2 separate regions of the Homo sapiens genome follow, and region 2 is linked to region 1. The links come from fine-mapping of genetic effects on gene expression. A gene starts in region 1. The other region holds a variant in brackets. All regions are shown on one strand. Distances are from middle to middle.

Evidence for each region.
Region 2: its variant is fine-mapped to the expression of JMJD6 in whole blood (TOPMed, PIP above 0.99).

Annotation. Positions count from the first base shown.
Region 1 is chr17:76,725,424-76,728,319 of GRCh38, forward strand. JMJD6 (jumonji domain containing 6, arginine demethylase and lysine hydroxylase) reads right to left here and starts at 1,183. Exons shown (of 6, transcript NM_015167.3): 1 at 924-1,183; 2 at 44-432. The coding sequence starts at 1,052. It overlaps METTL23 (methyltransferase 23, arginine), which reads left to right and starts at 1,416. Exons shown (of 5, transcript NM_001080510.5): 1 at 1,416-1,755. RefSeq lists enhancers at 1,056-1,685, 2,316-2,896 and silencers at 1,107-1,236, 1,347-1,796.
Region 2 is chr17:76,685,436-76,688,331 of GRCh38, forward strand. MXRA7 (matrix remodeling associated 7) reads right to left here. Exons shown (of 4, transcript NM_198530.4): 2 at 2,678-2,741. Among named protein-coding and RNA genes, the nearest start is that of MXRA7, 24 kb to the right of the region's middle. RefSeq lists an enhancer at 1,161-1,956. The variant T/C (reference allele first, on the strand shown) is at 1,586.

The DNA.
Region 1 (2,896 bases):
AAAAAGAAAAGGATTTTAACCACTTAGCTGCAGAATACTTTACCTGTAAGGGGGCCTGCGCTTCTCCCCAGCATACTGGAAAAGGTCATCAGTGAAAAACTTTGGCACCTTGTAGTCTTCCAAAAGTTTCCTTCTTTTAGGGTGTTCACCATAGCTGCTGTCAAAGATGTAAAGGGGACTATCATCTCGAGTGCTCTCCATGTACTCGATGTAGTATTTCATCTTCATCTTCACTGAGTAGCCATCGTTATCCTCACCACACTTGAACTTCTGGTTCCGATATTTCCTTTTTAGGCGCTCCAGAGTCCATTTCTCCTGCGCAGACCAGCCCTCTTGCGCATTCAACAAAACCACGGGCTTGTAAGGTCTTTCATACCGCTCCACAAATTCTTCCACAGACAGCTGTAAAGCATCTGCCCTTTCCACGTTATCCTGAGGGAATTAAAAAAGACCTGTCCAGTTAAAAAAAAAAAAAAAGTCCAGTGGCAGATAAGGGTGTCCCCAAGGCCAACTGGTAATGACAAACCGAAGGAAGTTGACTCTCGTCTGGCTCCTCCGGGGTGGGGGCAGGGCGCGTGCGTGAGGCCACGTCGTTCCTAGAGCCACCCCCCATGAGCCTTGACAGCCAGGTCCCCTAGGGGACCCGCCGCCCAAAGGAGTCAGGGACGACGGGCCTTCTAGTTGAGAGCGCCACAGGCGTGGGACTCCCGTCGTCCGCCAGAGCAGACGGGCGGCCACAGCACGGGAGGAAGCAGACCCGCCCCGGAATCCGCGCCTCGGGGACCCCAAACTCCGCGGGGTGCGGGTGAGCCTCTACGAGGTCCCGGGCGCTCGGGGCGAGGGCAGCCTCGGGCCCAGAGAAAGGTGCGTAGCGGCTGGAGGTGCCGATGCCCGGCCTGGCCACCCCCGCCCGACCCGCTCACCGCCACGGCCGCCGGGCTCAGCGAGAAGCTCTCGTAGTAGTTGTGCCGGGTCCAATCCAGCGAGTCCTTGAGCTCCGGCCGCGCACTCCGCTTGGCCTCGCGGATGCGCTTCTTGCTCTTGTGGTTCATTCTGCGGGGTCGCCAGCTGGTTCCGCTACGACCTCGGCGCAGCCCGCTTCCTGACACTAACGCACCCCTCCCCGGCCTGGGCGGCGGCGACGGCAGTACCCAAACGCCCTTCGCTCAGTCCCGGCGCCTTTAAAGTCGCCTTCCAGAAAATTCACTCCCCAGCCACCTCCCGAGCCTCGGGTTGGGCAAGCGGCCGCCGTCTTCCCCGCCCCGACGCCTCTCGCGGTTTTCCATTGGCTTTGGCTCCCCTGGGGTACTCCTTCACATACGGCGGGCCTCCGCCATGTTGGGAAGGTCACGTCGGCTGCGTCACCGCCCCGCCCCGCCCCGCCCCTCCCCTCCCGCGCTGCCGCTGTGCCCATCACTTCCGGTCGCGCCAGCCGCCCGTTGCCAGTTCTGCGCGTGTGAGTCTCTTTCGCCTTGCTCCGGGCTTTCTTCGCTCGCAGCGCGGCAGGGTTATCACCAGATCTGGGCTTTCCCCTTCTTGCCGTCAGGTGCTACGGCCACGTGGCCCGCGGCTTCCCGCTCGCGCAGTCTGGCAGCCCGGAGCCTTCCGCGGTCCCCCGCCCGCCCGGGGCCCAACGACGCCCTACTGGGCGAGCACGATTTCCGAGGACAGGGGGTCCGGGCCCAGCGCTTTCGATTCTCGGAGGAGCCGGGTCCGGGGGCCGACGGGGCTGTCCTGGAGGTCCACGTCCCGCAGGTGCGTGCAGCAGCACCCGCCAGGAGGCGCCTGAGGTCAGGAGCGGATGTCGGCTGACTTGGCTGGGTTCCTGAGGGACCGGGGGTGCGGACGCTCAGCTGCGCAGCTTCCTGCTTTAGGTTGACCCCCGGAGCAAAAACGTCGGATATGAAGCCCTTCGGTGCATTAAATGTCTCTCAGTAAGAATTTTGGAGACCCTGCCAAGAAGTGACCCTGGTCACTATGTTGGTCAGGCTGGTCTCGAACTGTAAGCTTAAGTGATCCTCCTGCCTCGGCCTCCCAAAGTGCTAGGATTACAGGCATGAGCCACTGCGCCGGGCCGGCTTTCTCCACATCGAATCTTTCCTGCCAGGAAAGTGACATTCTTGACTGACCTCTAATGCTTCTTTTGATCTTGTCCAAGGGTTTCTTGATTCATCCTTATCTCTCACTTTTGTGTGAGTTTTGGGATCAGGGTTTCCAGTTTTATTTGGTGCCCAAAGTGTTTCTTGGGTTGGACCTCGCTTCTTCCTCTAAGCTCACAGCTACAACAAAACTCTCAATAATAATTCTTTTTCTTTTCTTTTTTTTGAGACACTGTCTCGCTCTGGCGCCCAGGCTGGAGCGCAGTGGCGCGATCACAGCTCACTGCAACCTCCAACTCCCGGATTCAAGTGATCCTCCCGCCTGCCTAAGTGCTGGGATTGCAGGAGTGAGCCACCATGCCCTGCCTGTCTTCGGTTTTTCAAAGCACTTTCACTTTGCAGTATTTCATTTGGTTTTAACACCAGCCTGTGAGGCATGTCCCATGCTAAAGAAACAGCTTTAGAGAAGTTAAATGGGAGGCGGAGGCGGGAGGATCGCTTGGGACCAGGAGTTCCAGACCAGCCTGGGCAATATAGTGATACTACGTCTCTACAAAAAGTAGAAAAATTAGGCATCGTGGCTTGTGCCTGTAGCCCCAGCTACTCCGGAGGGTGAGGTGGGAGGATTGCTTGAGCCCGAGAGGTCGAGGCTGCTGTGAGCTATGATCAGGCCACTGCACTCAGGCATGAGCAACAGAGCAAGACATTGTCAAGAAGAAAAAAAAAAAAAAAGACTGGAGTGGAGGCTATTTCTGATTGTTTCCAAACAGCTTCACTTTTTTTTGCTAACTGCAACC
Region 2 (2,896 bases), 40 kb before region 1:
CTTGCCCTGGCCCTGCCCAGCAGGTCCTCTCGGCTACTGAGCTCAGAGGCGACAACTCCGGCAAGCAGAGCACAGCTCATCTTGGGACACACACCACGCCTGCCTGGGCTTGGGGAGGCTTGTGTCATCCCCCCACCCCCTGTGGCTATTGGAAATCTGAAAACACGCATCCAGGCAGCCCACAGTGGCCAGGCCAGGGATGCGGGATTTGCTGCAGCAGGTTTGACGTGTGTACCGCTGAAGAGGCAGAGCCCGATTTGCCAGTCCCCGAGGGGAGACCCCCCATTGCTGCCTGCAAAAAACGGACAGATCTCGAGGCCTGAAGAGGGCACATGGATGGGTAGGTGGTGGGCACAGAGGAAGCCAGGACCTGTGGCCTGGAGTGGACACAGGCTCCGGGCACATGAGCCACGGTGAGGAGAGAAAAGCTGAGCTTCCAGAGGGAAAAGCCCCATGGGGGAGCAACCTCTTGGTTCCTGAATCCAGCAGGTGTCGGGCAGAGCTGGCTGGCCTCTTATCGACCTCCACTAACTAAAGGACCCAGTGAGGGAGGCATAGAGAGATCCTCAGCTGCTATTCTGGAAGTGCTGCCCTCTCTGTCCCTCCATATCCTGTCCAGCAGCCCGAAAAGCCAGGCCCCTCCCCTCTAGCTTGCAGCCTTCATGCTACCGGATAGGCTGATGTGGACCGATGGGGAGGCGGGGGGGCTCTCAGGGTGAAAGGAAGAAGGTTCTAGATGCGAATTCAGAACCCAAACATCTGGTTGGGTGTGGTGGCTCATGCCTGTAATCCCAGCACCTTGGGAGGCCAAGGCAGGTGGATCACTTGAGGCCAGGAGTTCGAGACCAACCTGGCCAATGTGGCAAAACCCCGTCTCTACTAAAAATACAAAAAATTAGCCGGGCGTGGTGGCAGGCGCCTGTAATCCCAGCTACTCAGGAGGCTGAGGCAGGAGAATCGCTTGAACCCGGGAGGCAGAGGTTGCAGTGAGCCGAGATCGCGCCACTGTACTCCAGCCTGGGCAATAGAGTAAGATTCCAGTATCCCCCTACCCCCCAAAAAAAGAAAACATACAAAATCCTGCCTTGGTCCCAGTCTTAGGTTTCAATTTATGGGGCAAGTCTGATTAGTTTTGTTTTCTGAGCCAGACAGAACAAACGACTTGAAAAGGATTTCGCTCAGTCACATGCAGTGCACCAGGCAGCGCATCCAGTTTTGCTAGACCAGAATTCAACGTGACAGCCTCCGAGGGACGGGGGAGGTTTCTTCCTCCAGTCTCCTGTGAATTCACCTAGTCGCTCAGGGAAGTCATTTTAGCGACACTAATAATTAACCTCTGAGGCTGCCTCGTACTGCAGAGGGGCTGGAGGTGCTCACACATTCTTCCAACAGCTGGAGCCATAAACCTTTCCTTTCCCTGCCTTGCTAGAGATGGCAGGAGGCTAAGATGGCAGGAGGCGCTGGGGGTGGGGGATGTTCAGGAGCAGCGGTGCAGATAAGGGGGGAGGCTGGTGACAGTGCTGGGGGACTGTGCCCTCTGGCAGCTATGCCAGGGAGAGGGGTCTGCGAGCCTCTCTCCTTGTCC[T/C]TGCCAAAGGGCCTCCCTCCCGTGTCCCCAAGTCACTAACAGGATCCCTGCATCCCTTCAGCTGTCTCAGGCCACATGGCAGGGACAGATGCCAGGGCCATGGCTGCGGTGAGTCCCCAGTCCCCAAAAGCAGGGAGCAAGGGTCCTTCCTGGTAAGGGACTAATGTCCCCACCTGCAGCCCACCGCCTGCACCCAAGCTTCATTCTCCCCTCCTGCTTCAGGCTGTGCTGATGGAAACCAAGGCACTGCCTCAGGGGAAGCTCTGCACCCCAGCCCAGCCTGCCCGCAGGAGCTGGTTCCTACATTCCTGAAACCTTCTCTTTCCACTGCTCCTGCCAGCAGCCGACTTAACATCACAAAAGCAGACTTGCTTTTTTAAAATTATGAAATATTTCAAACATACAAAAATGCAGAAAGCACTAATCCTCCCTGTGCTTGCCACACAGAGCCAACAAACGCTGACATCTTGCATGTCTGCCTCCGCTTTCTTTTTTAGAGAAATAAGTGGATGGACCCAGCAGAAGCCACTCCATGTTTGGTTCCGCCTCTGTCTGTCCTGGCCGGGTCCGATCTGGCAGTGTCTCCCCTGTTCTCGGTCACTCCCTTTCTCCTCTCAGTCTCATGGCTGGGGCCTGTGGCCAGTCAGCCAGAGCTGCTTAGAAAGCAGGCGTGTGCCCTCCTGGGGCCTTCGTTCTGAAGAAGGCACGGGGGAGGCCGTGTGAGTGGTTTTCGTCTCAGTAAAATAGGTCAGAGATGTTTGGAGAGAATCGTGAAATGTACAGCGCGGTCACAAAAGGGGAGTTAGGAGGCAGCGCAGGACAGAGCCAGGCAGGGCGTGTAGTGTGTTCCCAAGAGGGGCCCCGGGATGGGAAAGCCAAGCCCCAAAGTGCAATGGGGGTGAGGGAGGGCTACAGGCAGGCCAGGGCAGGACATCCATGGCGCCAGACTCTACCTCTCATGCCCCACTCAGGCCACTGTCCCACCCCATCCCTCCCCTCGGCACTCGAACCCCAGCTCCTGTGATCCCCAGCAGGACACAGACCACCCCCGACACTGTCAGGCCCCCTCATGAGCGCAGAGGTCCCACTCACCGTCCTCCTCCTCAGGCCCTTCCGATGATGGCCCCTTCTCACCATCCAAGTCCTGCTCCTCTTCCTGCAAGACAAGGACAGGGTCAGTGCCCTTGGCACAGACTGGGTGATGGGAAGTGGTGGGGGGGCAGAAGGTAGGGGAGACAGAGGAGGCCCTCGAAGGTCCAGCCTGCCCACGCCCTGTGGCAGCGCCTGCCCTGTGGTCATGGTCAACCAGCA